2 linked regions of the Homo sapiens genome follow. The protein of the gene in region 1 purifies or fractionates together with the protein of each later gene. This does not show direct contact. Each region holds a gene or a part of one and is shown in the gene's direction. Other genes may lie near its edges. The genes, in order: ENPEP and FRMD5.

The links.
Region 2: the proteins of ENPEP (region 1) and FRMD5 purify together in Homo sapiens (affinity purification with mass spectrometry; 2 studies listed by BioGRID and IntAct, with this or other methods). This does not show direct contact.

The regions. Positions count from the first base shown.
Region 1 is NC_000004.12:110,469,600-110,482,498, forward strand, and holds the start of ENPEP (glutamyl aminopeptidase), read left to right. Parts: upstream 1-6,555; 5' UTR 6,556-6,815; coding exon 6,816-7,459; intron 7,460-12,899. UniProt on the Homo sapiens protein: Regulates central hypertension through its calcium-modulated preference to cleave N-terminal acidic residues from peptides such as angiotensin II.
Region 2 is NC_000015.10:43,916,293-43,928,515, reverse strand, and holds part of FRMD5 (FERM domain-containing protein 5), read left to right. Parts: intron 1-4,206; coding exon 4,207-4,311; intron 4,312-8,706; coding exon 8,707-8,749; intron 8,750-8,978; coding exon 8,979-9,057; intron 9,058-9,235; exon of another isoform or gene 9,236-9,667; intron 9,668-10,686; exon of another isoform or gene 10,687-10,791; intron 10,792-12,223. UniProt on the Homo sapiens protein: May be involved in regulation of cell migration. May regulate cell-matrix interactions via its interaction with ITGB5 and modifying ITGB5 cytoplasmic tail interactions such as with FERMT2 and TLN1.

The DNA.
Region 1 (12,899 bases):
ACTGCCAGCATTCCTTGGCTTGTGGCTGCATCACTCCAATCTTAAAGACCAGCACCTTCAATAGCACCTTCAAATCTCTCTCTGCTCTGTCTTTACATCACCTCTGTCTGTGTGTAAAATCTCTCTGCCTCCCTTTTATAAGGACACATGAGATCATATATTAGGACCTATCCTAATAGTACAGGATAATCTTCCAACTCAAGATCTTAAACTTAATCATATCTGCAAAGACACTTTAAAAAAAACTATATTTTGTAACATGCACAGGTTCCAGGGATTATCAAGTGGATATCTTTTGGAGGGGGGCATGTTTTTTTTTTAGCTTAAGGCAAAAGCATTCTAAAAAAGTCATAAACTGAAAACAGAAGAGATGCTAAATAAAGAGAACAGCAACAGGAGAAATAATGTTTCTATTATCCATATGGATGACTTTGATCATCTTAATGCAGTTTAAGTCTTTACTTCCAAGGAAAACAAAAATTGAAGACAACTTTATTTGGTTAAAGTTAATGTGGCAATAAAGAAATTTTCAAACCAAACAGCTAGCACTAATAAATAAAAATTGTAAAATTATAGGCCTTTTCTTTGAAATAAATAATTAATATTACCTAAGGTAAAGAAAGGGTGTATTAGAATTTTTGTGGAGAACATAATCCAAAATAATCATTGCTAGTATAATTCACTTGGACTCTTTATGGAGTAAAAGAATATTGGATGAAATAGTTTCCCTATACCAACGTTATTTTTGCAGACTTCTGCAGATAGAAGAGAAGAAAATATTGCCAAGAATTCTGATACCATAAAGGCTGAAAGGAAATGTTGAGTAAATTAAACATTTCAGGAAGTTTTAAAACTCTTCAGAATACAGAACTATTATTTAGTGCACTGAAAAAATATATATAATTTCAAAATTCTTAGAACAACAGAAATCTAGACTATATTATCACTATTATTTTTCTCCTGCTGTTTTTATATCCAACCACTTTCTCCCAATGCATTATTGCACATTAGGGAACTCAATACAAATGCAGTTAAAAATTATAGGAATCATAAATTTTTTAGTTTTATTTTGTTTGCTTTTCCAAATATTTTCAAAATCTCTACCTGCTGAGAACAAGGCAGGGCTTTACATATATGCCTTTAAGAATATTAAGAATATTCACTATTATTTCTTTTAAGGCTTACATTTTGAAGTTTATCTTAGCATTCCTTACCTAATAAATATTTGTTGGAAAGTAAATATTTATTTAGTCAACAAATATTTGTTGAGTTATTGAATGAATGAATAAATGAATAAATAAATAGTGGCTAAGAAACACTTTTCTGGCAGCAGGGGGTTGGGGGGCAGGGGAAGAAAGTGAAGTGAACAGATTCTCTCTAGAGTGATCCAAATGGCTAACAGGAGCATAATTCTTGCTTGTGAAATGACATCTCCTGGCATTCAGGGATTAGTGGTGAGAGACATTATGAGCATCAGTCTGGGTATCCCAGAAAACTGCAGAGAATTCTCAAATCAGCCTGGAAACAACAAGGAATAGAGAAGATAGAAACTTATTGTTTCACTGATTTTTATTTTTATTTTTTATTTTTTTGAGACAGAGTCTTGCTCTGTTGCCCAGGCTGGAGTGCAGTGACGTGATCTCAGCTCACTGCAACCTCACCCTCTGGGTTCAAGCGATTCTCCTGCCTCAGCCTCCTAAGTAGCTGGAATTACAGGTGCCCACCACCACGCCCAGCTAATGTTTGTACTTTTAATTGAGACAGGGTTTGACCATGTTGGCCAGGCTGGTCTTGAACTCCTGGCCTCAAATGATCCACCTGCCATGGCCTCCCAAAGTGCTGGGATTACAGGCGTGAGCCACCTCACCTGGCCTGATTTTTATTTTTTATTAAATTATGTTTGGTGTGTTTTGGAGGTTTATTTTCCTTCTCATCTATTTTGAAAGTCCTCCTTTTTCCTCTCCCTTTCCTTTGCCTCTTGTCTCTTTCTTCTTCTCCTTTTCCTCATCTTTCCTCCCTCTCCCTTTATTGTGCCAGTCATTGGACAAATTCATCATTTTCCCACCAATAAAAATTAGATGTGGCATGCTGAACATTTTATGTCTTAAAACTACTCCTGACATCTGCATCAGTTTTCAGCTCTTGGAAAAAGTTAATCTAGTTCACTTAGTCTTAAAACCAACTGAACCTTTTAAAACAGTTGTTGACGCCAAATAAAAGATGACAAATAGGGCACAGGCATTGGAAATACAGGTGAATTTACCAGCATCAGAAAGAACATGGCCAATATGGCTTTAGACCTCACGGTTAGCCAAGTCAGTTGCAATGACTCTCTCCTTTTTCAACTCTCACAGCTCACTAAACCTTTAAAGTTTGGAAATGGCTGAATTGACCAAGGGTGTTTATAGAATTTATGAGTTTAATAATAGTGGCCCTGTGGCAAGATGGAAAGAAACTGGTTCGGGCCCTCCTTGTTCCCTATGTATACAGCCTAATTTGCAGATTCTATTTCCTCCATTGTGAATCTAACTTGCCACTTTTTTTTTTTTTGAGACTGAGTCTCGCTCTGTCGCCCAGGCTGGAGTGCAATGGCATGATCTCGGCTCACTGCAACCTCCGACTCCTGGGTTCAAGCAGGATTCTCCCACCTCAGCCTCCCGAGTAGCTGGGATTACAGGCACCCGCCATCATGCCCTGCTAAGTTTTGTATTTTTGTAGAGTCGGGGTTTCACTGTGTTGGCCAGGCTAGTCTTGAACTCCTGACCTCAGGTGATCAGCCTTGAACCATAGCATTCAGCTCAGATCACTGATTAAAGGGCCAGCCAAATAATCACACAGTAGTGTTAATTGCTGACTACATTTCCTGAGATGCTCCTAGTGCCCAGGTGAGCCAGCAGCACATGTTATGGTATGGCTATGGCTTGTTTGTTCCAACGGAAACGCATGTTGAAATCGGATCCCCAGTGGCAGTGTTGTGAGGTGGGGTCTAATGGGAGGTGTTTAGGTCATGACAACTCTACCCTCATGGGTGGCTTGGTGCCCTTCTGTATTCTACAACAGTAAATGAATTCTTGCTCTGGCAAGACTGAATTAGTTCTTGTGGGAATGAATTAGCTCCCGTGAGACTGCGCTGTCATAGAGCCAGGATGCACCTTGGGTTTTGCAACTTTACACGTGTCTGCTTCCCTTTTGACCTTCCCTAACGTTGTAATGGTGTGAAAGCCCTCGCCAGAAGCCAAGCAGGTGCTGGTGCCATGCTTCTTGTGCTTCCTAGCCTACAGAAATGTGAGCTAAGTAATCCTCTTTTCTCTATAAATTACCCAGCCTCAGGTATATGTTATAGCAACAAAAAACAGACTAAGACAGCACCGTGTATACACAGAAGGCCCAATAGCTCTGTAGGATGTGTAATTCCTGGTACCTAATAGAAAAGCTTTAAATGGAAGCTGTAAGTGAAAAAGAGAGGTGCATACTTGGCCTTTGATGTTACAGTGAGTCTCTTGCATCAGTCTACCGCCTATGGGAAGGAATTTGCCAAGAATTTCCTCACCTACTCAAGATCAGATGTGATTTCCAGGTCTTCACCCCAGGGAATGTCTTTCTAGTCTTTTCTGGAATTCGAACAGAGTTTCTCTCAACATTCCTGGCACAGTATGTCTGTTAACCCCTCCCATTCTGGATTATTGTTTTTCCTTCCTCTCCTTGTTCATTTATTTGTTCATTTGTTATTCACTAAGCAATCAATAAACATTTATTGAGTATTGAATAGGGAACAGATATCTATTGAATGTTAAATAAGGAACAGGAGCAGATACTGGAATTTTAGTACTCAAAGTAGATCACGATAATGTATGTATCAAAAGGGATGGAGATTGTCATATAGAACCTACAGTAAACTGTTGTTCTTTCACTCCACTGGCTTGGACCTGATAAGTGGAAATTGACCAGCAGTAGTCGTTTGAAATTATTTATATCCAATGTAGATTCATTCAACGTAAGATTACCCAATATGGTCTATTTAATCTAGGAGGGTGCCTGTGATGGTGCACATGCTGGCCCTTCTACCTCTGCTCATCTGGCTGTATTAGGTCACCCTAATATGCTGATCCTCACAAGATGTGGTGCCCTTCATTGGATGCAGTCAGCTCACACAGGTTGGTACTAATAAGATACTGTGGCTAGAACTGGGCTGTGGACTCAAAACCTACACACACACACACCCCATATGTGGACTTAGGGTATTTTATTTCTTCTGGCAAAAAAAAATGCATTTAAATAGTATATTCATTATGGTAGAATTTCAGGCAGAGTAGTAGAGCTTTTTCATAGCAGGTGGCCATTCTTAATCTTCCTTAAGTGTACCCAACCCAAAGGTCTATTATCTTCTCTGTACATAAGACCTGGTGATAAGATTGTTGTCTTTGTAAATAAGGGCAAGTTTAAGAGATTTCATATATGTTTGCCACAAGGTCAAGTTTAAGAGATTTCAAATGTTTGCCACATCTGAGATTTTAAAAAATACTTCCAGTTTAACATAATTTTATGTACATTCTTCCAAATACTTTTTGCTTTTCCTTTCACTATGTTTAGGTAAATTTGAGCCACATTTTTGCCTTTCATTCCTAAGAAACATATCAAAATATTTGACCCATCAAACATTTATTGAAATGTCAGATGATCTTTTCAATAAAAAGAGGGTTTCAAGGGCTAAAATTCAGGAAGTTAATGTGCCAAACTTAAACATACTGTGATCTCAAGAAGTTTAGGGTTGCTTCAGAATGTAAAATTAATCAATACAAGATGGGCCTACAATTTAGAAAAACATATCCCTTTTTCCTTTAATTCTTTTTCTGTTACTACTATTTTGTGAGAAAAACAGCAGAAATGTTACAGAGTAAAATGGACCCGTTTGCTTTTAAAGTTTTGTTTTTTGTTTGTTTGTTTAGTTTGTAATTTAGAACCGTTTGAAACAACGTTTCTCAGAGTGTGCTCTGTGGAACAGAGGGCCCTCAAAAGGTACCTCACCAGAAAAAGCTGTCTTGTCAACTAAATGGGGAAAGTACTCCGTCGTGTTTCCTCTCTGAGAGGCTCACAATGTGTGTCACCATCTGGAGGCTCTGCAAGAATGGAGAGTAGTAAAAGAAGATTTTTCACTTTAACCCAGCATTGTTTGCTTGGCAAGTAGATCTGTTAATATCCATGGATTGTATCTGGGGAAATACCAAGTTTTTCATAGTTACTTAACCCTTGAATATTTATCCTCCTCAGAGCATGGAAGCAAGCAGTAGAATGCGATCGTTGATATATGGACTTTAATTTTTTTAATTTTATTTATTTATTTATTTATTTTGAGATGGAGTCTTGCTCTGTCACACAGGCTGGAGTACAATGGCACGGTCTCTGCTCACTGCAACCTCCGCCTCCCAGCTTCAAGCAATTCTCCTGCCTCAGCCTCCTGAGTAGCTGGGATTACAGATGTGTTCCACCACGCCTGGCTAATTTTTGTATCTTTAGGAGAGACAGGGTTTCACCACGTTGGCCAGGCTGGTCTCAAACTCCCGACCGCAGGTGATCCACCTGCCTCAGCCTCCCAAAGTGTTGAGATTACAGGCGTGAGCCACCACACCTGGCCAGATATATGGACTTTAGACTCAGACAACGTGGGTTCAAACCCCAGTTCTGCTATTTGCCAGGTGTGTGACCTTGAGCAATAGCTTAACCTCTCTAAATGTCAGTCCATAGCTAAGCTGCCAGTAAATATGAAGTTCATTGAGATTTTTCTTCCTGAGCTTGTCATTCAGAAACAAAATGATAGATTTGCATGGATGATGGATTTCCCAACAGGTCAATTTTCACATCTGGAATCTACTTTAAACGTGCTCTACCACATCAAAGTCTAAGGAAGTCAATCTCACTTGGAGGCACACTGCAGAGACAAGTAGGCCTTCTTCCTTGTCCCTCTGTCCTTTCAGACTTCTCCCCCTCTTGTTCCCTCTCTCTTCTTAAGCTTTCCAGCTCCACTACTGCTTTGGCTAATTTCTTTGGGTTCCCCCTCTCTCATTCACCCAGCACCAGCTGAACTGATTTAGGTTTACCTGGCTATGCTTTCCAAATCTAATTCGACAAATATTTACTGAGTACCTAGGTGGTCCTTGAATCACCCTGAGCACCCAATTCCAGGATATGACTTCTTCAAAGGACAGAATTGGAATGTTTACATAATATGAGGGAAAAAAAATAAAAGAAAACACTTAGCTTCTTTAGCAAGCTATCTGATAAAATAGCTGAAATTCAAGAAGCCCTTTAGTTAGGAGGGAGAGATTGCGAACACAACAGGAAGAAGCCCCAGGCTGAGTGGCAAAGGTTGAGATTTTCTATCGTAAGCACACCTCACCCAAACGCTTGCTCCCTGAAAGCTGCTGACGGAGCTTTGGCGAGGGCTCATCCTCCCGTTGGCTGATAAGCGAAGCCCTGTTTTATATTTAACTCGCTGCAGTGCAGGAGGGGTAGGGGTGGAGATGCGTCGTTTATAAGGGGAGCTGTGACAATCTTCTTGCCAGCCCTCTTCCTCCCACTCGGCTCCTCTTACGGAGTCCTCATTCCACCCCCCTTGTTTCCGCATTCATCCTGAGTGGCTGGTGGGAACGTGAAAAGGGAGAGGAAAAGGCGCAAGAAGCCAGAGAGAGGGGTGTGGGAAAAGCGAAAACAGGCTGCCAAATCAGGGGATTCCTTCCAATTTAAAAAGGAAGTCTGCTGACGTTAGTTAGTTAAATTTAACATCTTTTTATGTGTAACACTTGACTTTGGAAGCAAAAATGAACTTTGCGGAGAGAGAGGGCTCTAAGAGATACTGCATTCAAACGAAACATGTGGCCATTCTCTGTGCGGTGGTGGTGGGTGTAGGATTAATAGTGGGACTTGCCGTGGGCTTGACCAGATCGTGTGACTCCAGCGGGGACGGCGGGCCGGGCACTGCGCCAGCTCCTTCCCACCTGCCTTCTTCCACGGCCAGCCCCTCAGGTCCTCCTGCCCAGGACCAGGACATCTGCCCGGCCAGTGAGGATGAGAGCGGACAGTGGAAAAACTTTCGACTGCCGGACTTCGTCAACCCAGTCCACTACGACCTGCACGTGAAGCCCCTGTTGGAGGAGGACACCTACACGGGCACCGTGAGCATCTCCATCAACCTGAGCGCTCCCACCCGGTACCTGTGGCTGCACCTCCGGGAGACCAGGATCACCCGGCTCCCGGAGCTGAAGAGGCCCTCTGGGGACCAGGTGCAAGTCCGGAGGTGTTTCGAGTACAAAAAGCAGGAGTACGTGGTGGTCGAGGCGGAGGAAGAGCTTACCCCCAGCAGTGGAGATGGCCTGTATCTCCTGACCATGGAGTTCGCCGGCTGGCTGAACGGCTCCCTCGTGGGATTTTATAGAACCACCTACACGGAGAACGGACAAGTCAAGTAAATATTAATTTTTGCTTTACCTCCCTTAAGCTCACATATCTGCTTTCCATTTCTTTTCCTTTCCTTTTCACTTTCCGCTTTTAATTATTTTGTTGGTCTGATATTGATCGGCTCTTGGTTTCAATTCTGGCTGTCCATCTGGGAAGCCAAAATTGTTGCCCTATTGTATTTCCAAACCCTGTCATAAAACTTGAAAGTAGTGAATGAGCTTCGTAGAGTCAAAAGTCAGTGTAAGTCTTTTATTCCATCAGGAGAAATCATAATATACTGCACCCTATCTTGAAGATTTCCATAAATTATCTCAGGTTTGAGAACTGCCTTTGGTAAATTTCACTAGTGATATTCCCAGGCTATGTAGCAATATATATACAGCAATATATATGAACTTTTAAAGTGGTATTACACTAAATTTACGTGAAACATCAGTAAATTTCAGTTATTATTTTGTCCATTTTTTTTTTGTCCAATGTCTCTTTTTTGGAGAAGAGAGACATTGAAAAATCACATGTGATCCACAGAATTGTCTTTGTGTCTTCATCTGGAAAGGAAGACAGGACTGTGTTTTTTTCTGTCTCCGATGGCCAGGACCATGCTTTACACATAGGCTTTCAGGAAATATTCATTGAGTCCACACATCAGTGGCATAGGTAAATTTGGAGGCTTGTTGCTCATGATACAATGTGCAAACATAATGCTAAGCCTTTTACAACATAAAAGATATATTAAGTAGTTAAATACATACAAATATTTGTATACAAATATCTATCTAGATAGATAGGTATTTATTCCACTTTCCCACCTATTTGTCTAGCCTTTGTATTGATCAGTGGCTACTACCAGAGCTATGTTAAAGGCATAAACTCTCTCATTGAACTCCAAAAACTTCCTTCACACTGTGGATGTAGCCCTTGCATCAGGGAGGAAGGCTACACTACACCTTGTGTTGTGTCTGGACTGCTTTGACCTTTGCTGGCTTAGATTCTGAAGAGGTAAATGATTAAGAAAGCTTCTTGTCACAGTTTAGAGATGTGAGTCTTGGGCCAGTCCACCCACAAATATCCCTTTTTTTCTGTTGTTTTAAGCATCTTACAGAGCAAGCAAATTTTTTGGTCAAAATTCTTTCTATTGTTTGTCAGACAGACCCACGGACTAAAACAAAACATTTAAATATTCCTATATTCCTGTGTGGTAAACTGATAAATTGAGTAGAAGTGATAGTTTGAAGAAAATATCTGTAGGGGTCATGCTTATATAGATCTTATATCTTAATACTGCTAGCAAAAAAACACTCTTACCATTTACGTATTTTTTCTGTTCATAAGAATTACATCATTGAAAGCATAAAAATTATCAAAAAGGATAATCAAAATAATCTGTAAAATAATTTCACTGCCCAGTGGTAATCCCTGCTAGCATATTAATGTATATTCTAATGTTTTTCTAGGCAATCAAACCTTTAATTGCATTATATCTGTCTATCTATATGCCTTTTTTACTTAATGTCTTGAGAAGTTCCCCTTATTCTTACATGTTTTCAAGAATCTGTTTTTTGTTCTTTATTGAGACAGGGTCTTGCTATGTTGCCCAGGCTGGTCTTGAACTCCTGGACTCAAGCAATCCTCCTGCCACCACTTCCCAAAGTGCTGGGATTATAGGCATGAGCCACTGCACACAGCCAAGAATCTGATTTTAAAGATGTGAAATATTCCATTGTTTGAATACATTGTAATTTTTTAAAACAAATTATATTGTTGAGCATTTGAGTTGTTTCTAGTATTTTATTATTATAAACAAATCATCAAATAACATACTTCTAAATACCTCTTTGTATGTGCATCTGTTTATTTCCTTAGGTTAGGATATAGTCCTAAAAATAGAATTGCTGGGTCAAAGTGTACAAATATACCAAGATATTGTAATAGTTACTTTGTTTATTGATAACATAAATAATACACGTTTATTGAAGGAAACTCAGAAAACAGAGAAAATTATAGGAAAACATAAATTCATCCATAAATTCTTTACCCAAGTATAGCCATTGTTAACATTTAGGCAGAGACTCTTTTAGTACTTTTCTGGACATAGATAGCTGTGGCATAATTATATTATACATAGTAATGTGTAACATGCTTTTCCAATATAGCATCAATGCTTTAAGATGTCATTTGATGTTCTTCCACAAATGATTCGATGGATACATGGTAGGCCATTGTATGACTACAATGTAGTTGATTCACTTTTCCATTAAATATGAGTATTTAAGTTGCTCCTATTTTTTCACCTATAAGGATCTAGAAGAAGGCGCATCCTTATATTGACTATCCTTGTAAATAACTATTTATGGACATTTTCTAATATTTAAGAAAATTCCTAGAAGATGGGCCAAAACTACCTGTGTATAAATGCATGTATGTCTGTGTATATATGTGTACATGCATATACATATATATGCATGAACATGTGTATGCATGTGTGTGTGTCTCCAAACTGACTTCCAAAAAATATGTCCCAAACTCCATTTCCACCAACAATGTATGAAAGCGACTATTCCTCTGAGCCTTACTAACAATACAATGATTTTTTAAAAGTGTTTGCCAATGGTCGAGGGAAGGGCAATATTCTGAAGAATATCCACCTTAAAGAGATTCTAAAAATTCATTGAAGTGAAAGCGAGTCAAGACTTTTTAAATATTATTGCTAAAACTTTAAAACTGCTTCTTAGATCATAAAGACAAGAGAAATTTTATCTGAATAAAACCATCAAAATATTTATAAAATAATAAAATAAAATTTTACACATATTAGGAAGGCCAAAAATTGGAACTATGTAGTCTCCATTAATAAGTTTCTATTATGTACTTTATAAGTCTAAAAAAAGCATTATATACACAAATACTCTCACTCTTTGAGTTATTTTAGTGTACCAGTTAATTTTGCCATAAAATATATACCAGAGAGCTGCCCTTCTGAAGCTCAGTTGACTTAACTTTTGATTGGAGATTACGAAATGATGGCAACATCGGTGAGGAAGGCTGATGCTCAGTTCAGTTCTCACTGAGGATTGGTGTTCCCAAGTTTGTATGTTTCATTGGGAGCAGTTGAAGCTCTCACATTACAAAAGATGCTGCCAGTTCTGTACTGCACACACATGGTTTTGGAACAGATCTGGCGTCAGCTCAATAACCTCATTTAGGCTAAATGGAATACTTTTTGTTATCCTTGTCTGAAATATTTCAAGCATATGAGAAAAGTGCATCATGCTTTTTTTTCTAGCCTGTGAGTAATATTTTGGCAATGCAGCCTCTAGGAGTTCTCATCCACAGGCTCCATATAAGGGCCACCAGAGGGAGTTCACTGGGGGCAGTGCCTTTCTTTCATACTATAGAGTGAGCTTCGTCATATGTGACGTTTGTATCATTTTAAACGTCATCATAGTAATACATTTGAAGTACGGAGTCAAAATTATATTTTCTGACCTTAACGTAAAATGTAACTCCAGGATTGAGTATTAGTAGTTAGGGATATTAATGTGACAACCACAATGCAAACTAAACAGGATTGCACTCAGTAGTAACCAAAATTACTTAATTTCTGCAAATACAATCAGGACTTTGAGCTTCACAAACTTCACAGCTACCCAAGTTGCTTTCTCTCAAGATTGAGACATGGGGAAGAAAGGGGACAAAATTTAGAATTCCACATTGTCTTTCTGGGGACAGAGTTGTAGTGGGGCGTGGAAGGAGAAAGTTTGAGAAACATCCAGTCGCTTTTCCTTTATCGATCTACCTCTTCCTACTCGCTAGTCTATTCTTCAGGGTCTGAGGAAAACCACTTGGAAGGATTGGAACCTTTGGAATGTTTCTCTGACCACACCCTCCTTCTTCCCATTTTCTCACCGTGTTACGTAGGATTTCCAGCTGTTCCCTTCCCTAAAAGAGTTTCCCTCTACTCAAACTCCAAAGTATATATTTTCTTCTCTCCAAGATTTGGCTTTTCCTTGTCAGCATTTGGATTATGCTTACTTAGCACTTCCCAAAGTATGTACTGCAGAATTCTAGTTGCATGGGGATCTTAGTAGATATTACCAGAAAAATAGCAGGGGAGAGATTCTGTGGCTAAATCAGTTTGTGCAATAATACTAAATACAAAATGATCTGTTTTGGATTTTGTTTTTAATTATGGAACTTTTCAGAGACTTTTTTTTTTTTAAAGAGATGAGATCCAGGCTGGGGTAGAACTCCTGGCTTGAACTCATGAGTTCATGAGTTCAAGTGATCCTCCCACCTCAGCTTTCCGAGTAGCTGGGATTACAGGGTTTTCAGAGGCTTTTATATGATAATGTCCTCTATGTAGTTTCCCAACTCTCTGTGACTATGGATTCTTCTGTGGGGTTCCTAAGAGTAGGGATATATGTCTTTCCTTTACTGTTTGGCACACAGTGAGCACTCAAATATTCTCAAATGGAATAAATGAAAATATTATCATATAAGCTCTCACATGACTAGTATCCTCTGGCAAATGCTGGGACACATTGCATTACCACAGCTTCTCTCCCATAAACGAGCCTAACTTCCACCAATAACATCTCTACATTCCCACTTAGGGTGAAAATTTTCCCTTGGTTCCTTTTCTGCCTACCCTGTGGAAGGGAAGAGTTTATATGTGTATGTATATATATTTGTACTTAGGAATGCAATCTCCGTAGTTTAAAGGCAGAGAAACAGTGGAATTGACAGGAAGTACAACCGGAATTTTAGAGATCATTTCTAGTTTGGGCTGCCAAGGTGTTCTTCGTAGCGCTAGTAGGATTTAAGCTGAATTTTGATGTTCTGGTGGGAGTTCAGCAGCAGAGACAAGTGAGAAACTAAAAGCAGGCAAAAAGGAAAGGCACCAAGTCAGAAAAGCAGAGTGGGGACAAGAAAATTAGTTTGTAGGGGAAGTTTATATGAACAGGCTAGCTAGATATCACTGAGGAAAACCCTTACGGAGGAAAAGGAAAAATAGCCATGATAGGCATTATGAAGGAGAAATTACCCCATGACTTTTTGGATACAGATGGCAAAAGAAAGAGTTAACTCAACCATCCACTTGGATATATGAAAGATATTGCAGCAATCCAGGAAAGAGAAGATAAGGATCAGATAGGAAACGTGATTTCAGGATAGAGAAGAGAGGGCACAGTAGAGAAAATAGTTTGGAGGTAAAGTAGTCAAGATTTGACGATTGCTTGACTATGAGGAAGGGTGAGTTAAAGTTATGGGTCTAGGATACCCCAGCTAGCCTTCACCTCAATTGATATTGGAAATAGGTGGGAAGTAGCCAGGTTAGAAGGGAAGGTCGTAAGTTCAGTGTCAGATGTGTTGATGGCTTGTCAGACATCTAGGAAGAGATGACTAGTAGGCACTTGCATAAGTATGTCTGAAGCACAAGGTTAGAG
Region 2 (12,223 bases), on another chromosome or scaffold:
TGATGGTTCAGCTGCATGTGATTTCACCCAGTGCTGCCTCAGGCCACTCCACCAGCCACAGGTGTGAGTGCCTCAAAGGAAGGGCTTTGTCGCAACCCTCTGTGAAAGGTGCCTCTGCGCAGAGCTCTAAGTTGATTCTACCTTTGCATACCTACTGGGGATTTAAATTTCATGGAATTCTATGTCTACCTCTTTCCTCATTCCCCTCACCCCCACCCCAGCCTTGGAGAAAGAGCAAAGGAAGATGCTTCTCTTCATTAGTCTATGCAAGAGCCCTGCAGCTCAAAACAATGCATCTAACACTGGTAACTGGTAAATGGGAACTTGAGGGAACTATGTCTTCACGGCGGGGGAGCAGGGGGATTCACCAGGTGCTGAAAAGTAACCAGAAAAAGGTCTTTTTTATGTAGCTGTAGGGAATGGGTAGTGGGATATATCCTTATTTCCTAACTACTCCAAGAGAAAAGCCATGCTTCCTTTTTCTTCCTGTGAAGTGGAAGAAATCTGAAGTTGGATCTACCAAGTTCAGGGTTCTTACCAGCTAAGAGCCTTACAAGTGCATCTGAACTCGCAGCCCATGAGAATGAGTTGTTTTATGAAAGGCAGGATTCTTATTAAAAGTCTGTATGATTTCCATCACAGAAGCATGTTTTCCCTATAGCTATCTCTGTCCCATTGCTAATCTGGTTGTTGTATGTATGGAAGCAAACTTCTTCAGCCCGTAAAACTCACATCATACTGTAGTAGTGTTTGTGAAAAACATTTTTTCATTAAAAAAAAAAAAGCACCAGCTGATCACAATGTAAAAGCCAGCTTGGTGCAAAGTAAAATTTGTAGAGAAAAGCAATGAAAATATGCTACTGTCTCTCACTGTTCCATTTCAGTTGCTCTGAGAGAGATAATAGTATAGGATATGCTGCATGGGATAGAGTGGAACATGTTTCCTCTGCTCCCAGAGAACCTGAAATACCTCTTTAAGCTCTTCTCACTCTCTTGGCATCAGTGAAGAAGTAGTTAATAGGCCCTGCACAAAGAAAGTTCTGACGGAGTCCTTTGAAAGACCTGGTTTGTGGCCCACCACCCAGAAGTCCCAGTGTGATTCATAACGAGTCTCTGTCCTGAGAGTCACTCTTTCCTGTAGGGGACCAAAGACAGGAGGAATAGGGCCTGCGAGTTCAGGCTTATGTTGTGAGAGGGAGTATGAGGCTAGCAGAAGTGATACCAGTGGGCTGGGGGAGGTCCCCAAACGCCAGTGAGACCTCCACCCCACCTGGTGTCCAGGCTCTTGACACCATTGAGAAGATAAGAATTCTTTCAAGAAATTCAAGGAAGAGTCAGAAAATAGTAAAAGAACAGAGATTTATTGAGATTTATTGCAAAGGGCAAAGTACACATTCAAGAAAAGGGAGCGTAGGCATACTTGAGAGAGTCATTCAGTGGGGTTTGGGGTTTCTGTCTTTATGGGTTTCTTTAACCAAGGGGTGGAATATTCAAGAAAATTCTTGGGAAAAGGTAGAGATTTCTCATAACTGCAGTGGCACCTATTTTTACAGCAAATATGGGTGGTCTTGGAACAGTCCTGGCGCTGGTAGGTGTGTGATCTAGTATGTTAACGAGTTTATAGTGAGGTCCTAGGAGAAACCTAGGTCAAATCCAGCCACACATTGGGTTCAGTGGGTCTTAGCTAGCTTGGTCTATGCCCTGTTTTTCAGGGTCTTATCAGCCCATAGCCTCTAGTCATGTGAAACTGCTGTCTGGAATTTTTATTCTCCTGTGACCACCCTGTATTATTCCTGTCTCAGAAGAGGAGGGGTGTTGCCCACATGTTGCCTCCTTCTGTAGTTGAGCTGTCTACTCACCTATTCTTCCAGCTCCTGCAAGGACAAACTTCTTAACATAACTGCCGCGAGATCAGCATCCTGCCCTAGTTCTCCTTGGATAGTATGTGGTGAGTTAGCAGAAGGGGAAGAGGTGAGGTGTAAACCTTTTGTGAAGGTCTTTAAAATATGCTCATTCTTGGGGCAGGGCCAGGCCCTTCTGTAATTACCCATGGCCTTGGGCCTTGGCACAGGAGAGATCTTTGGATCTTATCTTACAACCTCAATTTCTGAGACAAACGTGATAACCACTACACTACAGAAATTCCTCATACAACCTCAATTTGTATGCAAAATTAGACATAGACCCGCCAGAGATGATCATCTGAACTGAGCTGCAGAGACCACTGGGGACAGGCCAGCGATGGATGCTGTGCAGGCTCCAGATGTTTTGACAGGTTCCTGCAAGTCATTCTCCTCCCACTTCACCCTTGGCATCCAGGCAGGTCTCTGAAGTAGAAGGTTATGGGTTATAAACGGCCTAGCTTTTCACCATTTTGTGAAATCTTTTAGCAAACCTTTTCCCTTCTATTCATTCAGTAATTTATTCAACAAATAATTATTGAGGACCTGCCTGCCATGCATCAGGCCCTGTGCTAAGTTCTGGGGGAAGGATTCTGACCTCATGAAAATTACAGTCTAGAAAGGAAGCAGATAGTAAATAGATAACTAAACAAATCAACAAGATAATTACAGATTGGTATAAGTGCTATGAAGGACATAAATGGCAAAATGAGATGGAAAGTAACTGGGAAGGGCTGTACTATAGGGAAAGGCCTCTCTGAAGAGGGGACATTTGAGCTGAGTCCTCAAAAAATAGGAGTGGCTGCAGAGAGCTGCAGGAAGAACATTCCCGGCAGAGGGAATGCAAAGACAGTGGCAGAAAAGCCTTGGGGAGTTCAGAACGGAAAGGCCATGGCTGAAGTGTAGTGAGGAAAATGATTTTGGGTGAGTGCAGAGAGAAGCCAGGCTGTATAGGGCCTGGGACGCCATGATCAGAGTTTTCATTTTATTCTGAGAGCAACAAGAATTAAGAGAAGTGAGTAACATAAAGATCATTGTATGTTCACTGCCACATTGTTTGTAATAGCAAATTAGAAACAAATGTCATCAATATGGAACTGGGTAAATAATTTTAGATTCATTGCAGTGACATGCAGCAGTTAAAAACTGTGAGGCATATCTATATATATTGCCATAGAAGGATTTGCAGGATACCCTAAGTGGGAGAAAAGAGCTTAAAAATATGTTACAAAATGTATTTTTAAAAGAGGAGATGTATATGTATGTAGGTTTGCCTGTGTATAAAACATCACATAAAGGATATACAAGAGGGCTGGGCATGGTGGCTCACACCTTTAATCCTAGCACTTTGGGAGGCCGAGGCAGGCAGATCACCTAAGGTCAGAAGTTAGAGACCAGCCTGACCAACATGGTGAAACCCCGTGTCTACTAAAAATACAAAAATTAGCTGGACGTGGTGGCACATGCCTGTAATCCCAGCTACTTGGGAGGCTGAGACAGGAGAATCGTGTGAACCCAGGTGGTGGAGGTTGCAGTGAGCCAAGACTGCGCTATTGCACTCCAGCCTGGGAGACAGAACGAGACTCCATCTCAAAAAAAAAAAAAAAAAAAGGATATACAAGAAGCTGATAACAGTTGCTTCTAGGGAGAGGAACTGGGGCACAGGGTGGCCAGGGTGGAAGGGAGACTTACTGTTCATAGTATATCCTTTTGTTTGTTTAAATATCCTACAATGTGCCTGATCACTTATTCAGCAAGAAAGAGATGATGTCTAAATTGTGGACACCCTCATTGCTGTGCGGAGAATGGACTGAAAGGGCAAGAGCAAAGGCAGAAGATCAGTTAGAAGGCTCTGGCAGTGGTCCTGTTGAGGGATGGTGGTGGCTTGACCTATGGTGTTGGTAACAGAGAGGAAGAGAAGTGAATGGATTCAAGATTTACTTTAGAGGCTCAGTCAGCTGGGCCTGGTGTAATTATTGCTGTATTCCACACTGACATTCCCTACACCCACAGTTTAAGAAAGCTCTCTGTGCATTTGAGATGGGAACTGGGCTTACCTGACTCTACCCTGACTTCTCTGACATCTTTGTGGTGGGAAGGGTTCTTGGGCTCCTTCCAGGTGCTAAAAGCCTCTGGATTCCAGACAGTGAGTGATGTATCACAATGTGGAGGACATAGTTATGGACATTCACCCCTTTCATAGACACATGCAACAGTTACAAACAACTTTTAATGGCTATAAAAAAAAAAAAAGTTACACTGAAGAAACCCACTCATTTCTCAATGGAGTTTTCTTTCTTTGCAGAGAGATGCCAAAGGCCAGTACCTGTTTGACCTTCTTTGCCACCATCTGAACCTACTTGAGAAAGACTATTTTGGTATCCGCTTTGTAGACCCAGATAAGCAGCGGGTAAGTCAATATTCAAAGCACAAAAGGAGGACAGGGCTAGTCAATAAGACTGAGGTCTTGAACTGTCATTCATATTCAAAGTCAAGCTTCAGGAATCAGGGACCAACCAGACCCTGCAGTTGGATGTCGTCTCTTCAGATCATAGCATTAGACCTGGAAGGCACCTTGGCTAGAGCTCACCTGGAGAAGCTTGTCATTTTACAGTTGCTGAAATGGCAGGCTAGGGAGCTTAAATGATTTGCACAAAGTTGGAGGCAGAGCAGCTGGGCTGGAGTTGTGGTCTCGGAGCCCAAGTCACAGGGTGAGCCTCTCCTGCCCACTTTCTAGTAAGCAGGCTGAAGCACATTGTACTGGTTAGGAAAGGCCTCACCAAAGGTGCCATACCAACCCAATCTAGGCAGTACAGACAGAGCCAAACCAGCGCGGGCCTTTCAGCACCTTGCAGATCTTGCAGTTCTTGCTCTGCTCTACACAGCATAGGCAGCTCTGCAGACACAGGGCATTCTGATAGCCAAGGGTGCTGATATTCCAGACAGATTCAGGAACAAGTCCATCATCTCAGGCCCCTGCCTATTTCTCCAGCTTCATCTCCCCAACCTGCTGTGGTCCCGCCAGACAGTAATACTTTTGCCCTCCAGATACATCATACCTTCTTTCTTTACAGAGCCTTCACCTATAGAGTTCCCCTGCCTAGAATCTTCTCCTTTTCCTTACCGCTCCACACTCCACACCCTTCTTCCAGCTAACTCCTTTTCACACTTAAGGTCTCAGCTTAGACTTTTACTTCCTCTGGGAAATCTCCCCTAACCCCACTCTGTATTAGGGATCCTCCTATGGGCCCCCATGTGCCCTCTGCTACCCTGTTATAGCACTTATTACATCATTCTGTGATTACCTGTGTTCCCTGCAAAAATGTAAGTTCCATGAGGGCCTGGACTTTGTCTCATTCATCACTATCTCCCATTTAACTAGCACAGGCCTACAATGTAGTTGGTGTTCAATAAATATTTTCTGAAGAAATGAATGCATGAGTGAGTTAATGGCTTATAGTGTTGTATTTCTTACGTCCATTTGCCCAGCCTCCCAGCTTGCAGACACCTGCAGTTTCTATAACTTCCCTTCATCTACCCTTTGCTCTTTGTGGAGATGTACTCTCTGGCATCCCCACCAAAGTAGAGAGGTAATGATGGTGTTTCTTTGTTTGGTCCAAACTTTTATCCTTAAAAAGGAAGGCTGGCTGTGTGCACTGGCTCATGCCTGTAATCCCAGCACTTTGGGAGGCTAAGGCAGGCGGATTGTTTCAGCCCAGGAGTTCATGACCAGCCTGGGCAACATGGCAAAACCCCGTCTCCACTAAAAATACAAAAATTCGCGGAAATGGTGGCATGTGCCTGTAGTCCCAGCTACTTGGGAGGCTGAGACATGAGAATCACTCGAACCCGGGAGGTGGAGGTTGCAGTGAGCCAAGATCACACCACTGCACTCCAGCCTGGGAGACAGAGCAAGACTCTTGTCTTTAAAAAAAAAAAAAAAAAAGGAGGGCCAGTTACTCCAAGATCTCTTCATCCCCTAGAGTGGTGGTATATGAAGAAAAAAAGGCGAATTGTATCCTGTTCATTGGTTTTTTAGTTAGGTCAGAATGTGCTTGAGGAGAGTAAGAGAATATGTGGATGTGGTGAAGGTTAAAATGAGAAGGAACTAGAGAGAGATAAGAACATGGGAAAGAGGAGAAGTAAACATTTATGGAGTTCCTACTGCTTGCCAGGCTCTGCGCTGCACACAAACCTAATTCTTCCAGCTGATGTATACTGCTCACTGAGTCGTGCCAGGCACTAAGCTAAGAGCTTCACGTATGTTATTCCATCTCATCCTTAACAAAATGAGATGAGTATCCCTAATGATAATATCTGTTATCCAGATGAGTAAATAAAGTCTCAGACAAGTTAAGTAACTTGCCCCAGGTCAGTGGCAAAGCCAGCCTCGAGCTCAGACCTGTTTGACTCCAGGGCCAGTGTGGTTTCTGAGATTCCATGCTGAATGTATAACTGATAGCCTCTGAAAGTTGTGTAATTCTGTGCCTTGCGGGAGGGGTTAAGGAGAGCAGAGAGGCTTGAGACAGTAACTGAGGGTTGTAGGGAAATGGGGACCTGTAGAGAGTTGTCCTTAGTCCACTGATTCATGGTAGGGATGGAGGAGCTGAGCTCCCCTGCTCCCTCAGGGTGTAAGGGCCTAAAATAAACCTCTTTCCCTGGGTCTCAAGACAGTCTGAACCCAGCACTTACATCCATCCGATGTCAGTCCTTGCTCTGCAGGAGCCTCCATGCATCTGCAAGCTCTCCTGGTCTCTCCTGGAGGAGCTGCCCTTACTTTCCTTCCCCAGGATGCCTGACTCGGGCCCAGGGCCTCCACCTTCTCTTGGCCTCTGCTTTGTACCCTTTCAAGCCCCTAGAGTCTGAAGATTGTGCCACATTGGCCCATTCACTCAGATAGGGGAGGAAACCCTCCTCTCTGAATCTTCTTTTCCTCTTCTTTTAATCCCTCCTCCCTAAGCCCATGTTGTCTGTTTGCTAGTGAATCTGGGACCGATTTGGTCAGGCATTTGCAAAAAGCCACTCTGGCCATCACCATATTCTTGGGTTCCTCTCAAGATTTCTCTGCCAGACTCCAAATCCCATGGATCAGCTGTGACAGCTCTTCAGTCCCTTCTCACCCCTTGCTACTATCCTCCAGCCTCAGTCCTTTCTTGAGCTCTCACTACAATAAAACTAAAATCTTCTTTCTAGCTATTGTCAAGGGGAATAGGCTTTTGTCATTCAGCTTTATCTGCCCTCTGCTGATAATGCATCTCACAGTCATTAATTTCTACCTTCCTTTGTTTATTTCTTTTAATCTATCAGTCTAATGTCTGGGGGTGTTGCTGTTCTGTGTACTGAATCCCTGGCACTGGCTATGTTCTCCTCACTGTCCACAATTCCAGTGTGCTCTGAACAGATAGGCCTCCTCCGTCTTCACAGGCATACCCTGGAACCCCAGTTGTTTCTGAGCAATTTCATCTCTTGCCTTTGCCTCCCTGTGAAGCTGAGCCGCGGTGGGCCGTGTAATGTGAGAAGGGCCTCTTAACCACATTGAGTGGCTATAATGAGTTGCCAGCCTCGTGGGAACTCAGATCAGCAGAAGCAGGAGAGCAGAATGTCAGTCCAGATTATCCATGTGGAGCTGACAGAAGAACTGGCTCTTAGTGGGTCCATTAACTGCATGACCCATGGCCCAGCCCAGAAGGTGATCACTGGGAATCAAGGGAGGCCAGGATGCTGACTGCAGCGCCCTGGCTGCTCTCCTGCCAGAGGGAGGACTCTGCCAAGACATTACACTAAATTGAAGTAGCCAGAAAAGAAGGAAGTATGGGCCCAGTCCCTTTGCCATTCAGCAGCTACCTATTGAACACTGTGCTAGGCACTGGTGATACAGTGGTAAACGAGACTGACAGTTCTGGGCCTTCATGGAGCTTACATCTGGCAATGTTAAGCTACCTCTGGATAATCAAACTCCAATTAATAGCAGTCCTACCTAATCTTGATTAGCAAAAAGCAACAAACATCAATAATAAAATTTATAAAGGACCCATGTAGAATTAAGGAACACATATAGAATGGTTTCATTGCTTCCCCCAGACGTTAAGTACCATGGGAAAATGTATTCTGCCTCTATGTCCTGCCTCCTTGAAAAATCCAAGGGGAAGAAGGTACTATCCTACACGTTGGTTGTGGTTAGTTATCATTTGAGATTTAGATTTTAAAACATCACTGGATGCCAAGGAATCCTGAGTATGTGTTTTCTAACACAAGGGTTGGCAATTTATGTTACTCAAAGAAAGATGGAATATATACCAGCCATCCCTGACTTAGGAAATTTCCACTTCTCACTACTTTCTAGAGTTGCTACCAAAATCTTCTATTCCCACTCCCCTGCCAAAAAAAGAAGAAAAAAAAAGCTGGTGCATAACAGAAACACACACCACCCATTAAAGTCAGTATTTCCCGACTCAACCCAGGTGGGGCTCTGTCCCCGCCACACATACATGCAGTCGCTTGTGCCTTAATCGCATGCCAAAAACATGGCTCAGAATTTTGGCACCCTGCTTTAGAAGACAGCATTTCCAGGGAAGCCCATAAATGGCATCTGAAGCTGGAACTATTCCCCCCTTCACAGCTGGCTCCATGGGAGCTCATTTCAGAAAATCATATCACTCTTTACTCACCAAACTTATCTTTCATAAGCTTTTGGGCTGCTTTCACCCTAGGCTACAATCTGTCTAGTTTTTTAAGTTGGAGAAAACAAGTTATATTTTACAGCCCTTCTCATTAGGGTTTTCATGTTCTGTGTTCTCTGTTTCAGCATTGGCTGGAATTTACAAAGTCTGTGGTGAAACAATTGAGATGTAAGTATTCTCCATGAAAAGACTCAAGCCACACCCCTGGGGAGGGTGGGACGAAACCTCCCACTTATCTCAAGTTTTGATCTACATATATAATTTCCCACTGTTCTGAGTATAAGTTGGCCCTAAATATATGAGGGTTCTCTTCTGCTGCTTCATGCTAGTGGGCAGAAGAGCCCTGTCCTCTTCTGGGTGAGAGTCTTCCCTGATGAGCACCTCTTTTTCTCTGCAGCCCAGCCTCCATTCACCATGTGCTTCCGTGTGAAGTTTTATCCTGCAGACCCTGCTGCTCTGAAAGAAGAAATAACCAGGTGAGGTGAACATGCTTCCCGCAGCCATTAGGACCTGTTGGAGAGCATAGGAAAGGGGGATGGTGACCTCTTAGAGCCTCTCATTTGGAAGCGCCTAACTCTTAGAGGCAAGGAACTCTTCCTAAATATAATGACTTCTGTATTTCATTTCCACATGCTTTCTTCGCGTACCCCTCAGTGCAGTCGCAACAGAGTGGACTTCTTTCCTTCAAGAAGTGTGAATACTACCTCTTGAACTGGTCACTCTCAAAGGGCTCTGGAGTAACTAATCAGAAGCGTCTTTTCTTTTACCTATGATGTTGCCACTGTGGACATTTTTGGAGAGAGCTATGTTGCTGCTTATTTCGGAGGTTGCAAATAGATTCAAGTGGTCTAATGGATATACTTGGAAAATGCCAAAGGCATAACACTGAAAGATAAGCTGGGAGATACTGAAGATTTAAAATCAAAATGGATAAACTCTGTGGTGCTGTTGGATCAGGTTCGTGATAAACTATTGTGGGGATCATGTTCTGTGGCAGGCCGACAGCTGCGTGGAATGCATCCTGTCTCATCCAGCGCCACTTGAGGATGAAAAGAACCTCTGTGCCCACAGCCATCCTAAAAGAGGGTCAGTGAGTGAGAGCTTCAAAGCTTCCCCAGGATTTTGTGTATCTGAGCGAAATTTACTGTGAAAGTCTCACCTCAGAGATTCAAGAACTCTACAACATGGATCCCTAATTTTTATATTAGAAAGACCTAATTTTGACATAAGCAAAACCTTGATGTTACTTTGTAGAAGGCAGGACCATAGGTAAGGATGTGATGCCAGGGAATCCTAGAGCTGAGGAAGAGATAGGACTGTCAGCTCTAACCCCTTCCCTAAGACCGTGGAGACAGCAAAGGTGGGAATGAGGATATTGCCAGCCATATAGACGGGTTATCCTGTAAGGCTTTGAGATCCACTCCTAGATCCTTAACTGCTTGGGAAAATTCCAAAGACAGAAAAGGAGGAGGGAAGAAGGAGGAAAGAATATGGAATTCTTTTCTTTTTTGAGACAGAGTTTCGCTCTTGTTGCCCAGGCTGGAGTGCAGTGGCGCGATCTCAGCTCACTGCAACCTCCACCTTCTGGTTTCAAGCGATTCTCCTGCCTCAGCCTCCTGACTAACTGGGATTACGGGCGCCTGCCACCACGGCTGGCTAATTTTTGTATTTTTAGTAGAGACGGGGTTTCACCATGTTAACCAGGCTGGTCTCGAACTCCTGAGCTCGTGACCCGCCTGCCTCAGCCTCCCAAAGTGCTGGGATTACAGGCATGAGCCACCGTGCCCGGCCAGAATTATTTTCATTTCCTGATCTAAAGAGCATGCCAGGTGAAAGGAGCAAAAATTTCTCTAAGAGAGGAAATCAGGAAATGGGGAGAGGAGGGGGCCAAGAAGCAGGCATTATCAGTACAAAGGCAACAAGGAAGTGGGACAGGGGAGAAAAGTGGCTTCTTCGGCATGGGCCCTTCACATGGGAGTTGAGGGAGATCCTCTTCAGGAAGGCTTGTTTCCTGCAGATGCATAGGGCAGCGTGTACCCACCTACTTTGAAGCACTGAAGACAGTGAAGAGTGTAGCTAGAACCAAATCTCATGTCTCTTACTAGGCATAGAAGCCCCAGGCTCTGCTCATCTATGTGGAAGTGGAGGTGGCTCTTGCTTTGCTTCAGAAAACCAAATCCATCCAAATCATAGACACCCTAAGGCTTTAGGTAGGTGAGTAAGGGTAGAACCACTATGTTTAAAATTTCAGGCCAGGTGTGGTGGCTCACGCCTGTAATCCCAGAACTTTGGGAGGCTGAGGCGGGCGGATCACCTGAAGTCAGGAGTTCGAGACCAGTCTCGCCAACTTGGTGAAGCCCCATCTCTACTAAAAATACAAAAATTAGCCGGGCCATCACGCCTGTAATCCCAGCTACTCGGGAGGCTGAGGCAGGAGAATCACTTGAACCCGTGAGGTGGAGGTTGCAGTAAGCCAAGATTGCGGCATTACACTCCAGCCTGAGTGACACAGTGAGACTCTGTCTCAAAAAAAAATTTTTTTCAAGAGTTTTGTTAAAATACCACTAGCCTGCCCCACTCATGATCTCCAGAGTGTTTGCCTTAGCTCTGAACTTCTGTCTGTCTCTGCTAAAAGAGGTACTGGTGCCAGGGCAGACCCCAAAGTTGGTACTCCTGTCTACATATCGGAGCAAACCTAACACGTCTTTGTTGTCCACCTCACTGGACCAACAGTGGGGATGAGAGGGAGCAGCCAGTGAGAGCACCACAGACACATGGCTTTCCAATTTGATTAAAGGACTGGAAATGTATGGTTATCTTGGCCCTTAGGAAGAGCTCTTAATAATACAATTTTCCGCCAGGCGTGGTGGCTCACGCCTGTCATCCCAGCACTTTGGGAGGGTGAGGTGGGTGGATCATCTGAGGTCAGGAGTTTGAGACCAGCCTGACCAACATGGTGAAACCCCGTCTCTACTAAAAAGACAAAATATTAGCCGGGTGTGGTGGTGCACACCTTTAATCCCTGCTTCTCGGGAGGCTGAGACAGGAGAATCGCTTGAACCCAGGAGGCAGAGGTTGCAGTGAGCCAAGATCACGCCATTGCACTCCAGCCTGGGCAACAAGGGTGAAACTCTGTCTCAAAAAAAAAAAAAAAATACAATTTTGTAAATCCAGTGTCACTATCTTACATGAATGGACAGACCTTCCTACCCAAGAAGCAGCATAGACCTGGGAGCTCAGATCTTACTTATGTTACTTGTTGGCTGTATACAGCCAAATAAGATACTTAACTTGGAAATAAGATACTTAACCTCTCTAACCTTAGATTACTCATTTATAAAATGGGGATAGTGATATCTACCTCATAGAATTGTCGGGAAGATTAACCACTATCCCGGCCTCTTACACTTCTTAATACACCCACAGTGAGCCTTGCACTGAGCAAAGTCTCAATATTTCGTTGCCAGATTCATTACACAGTCCGTAGGCCCCAGGGGCTCTGCATCATGCACAAGTACAGTTAGTACTGGCTTTTCTTCCTTGTTTATGTGAAAGGTACTTCTTTTCTAATAATCTCCACTCCTCCTCTGTCCCCTTTCCCCACCAGCTAGAATCCTAAAACTTAAGCAGCTAACTTCTGTT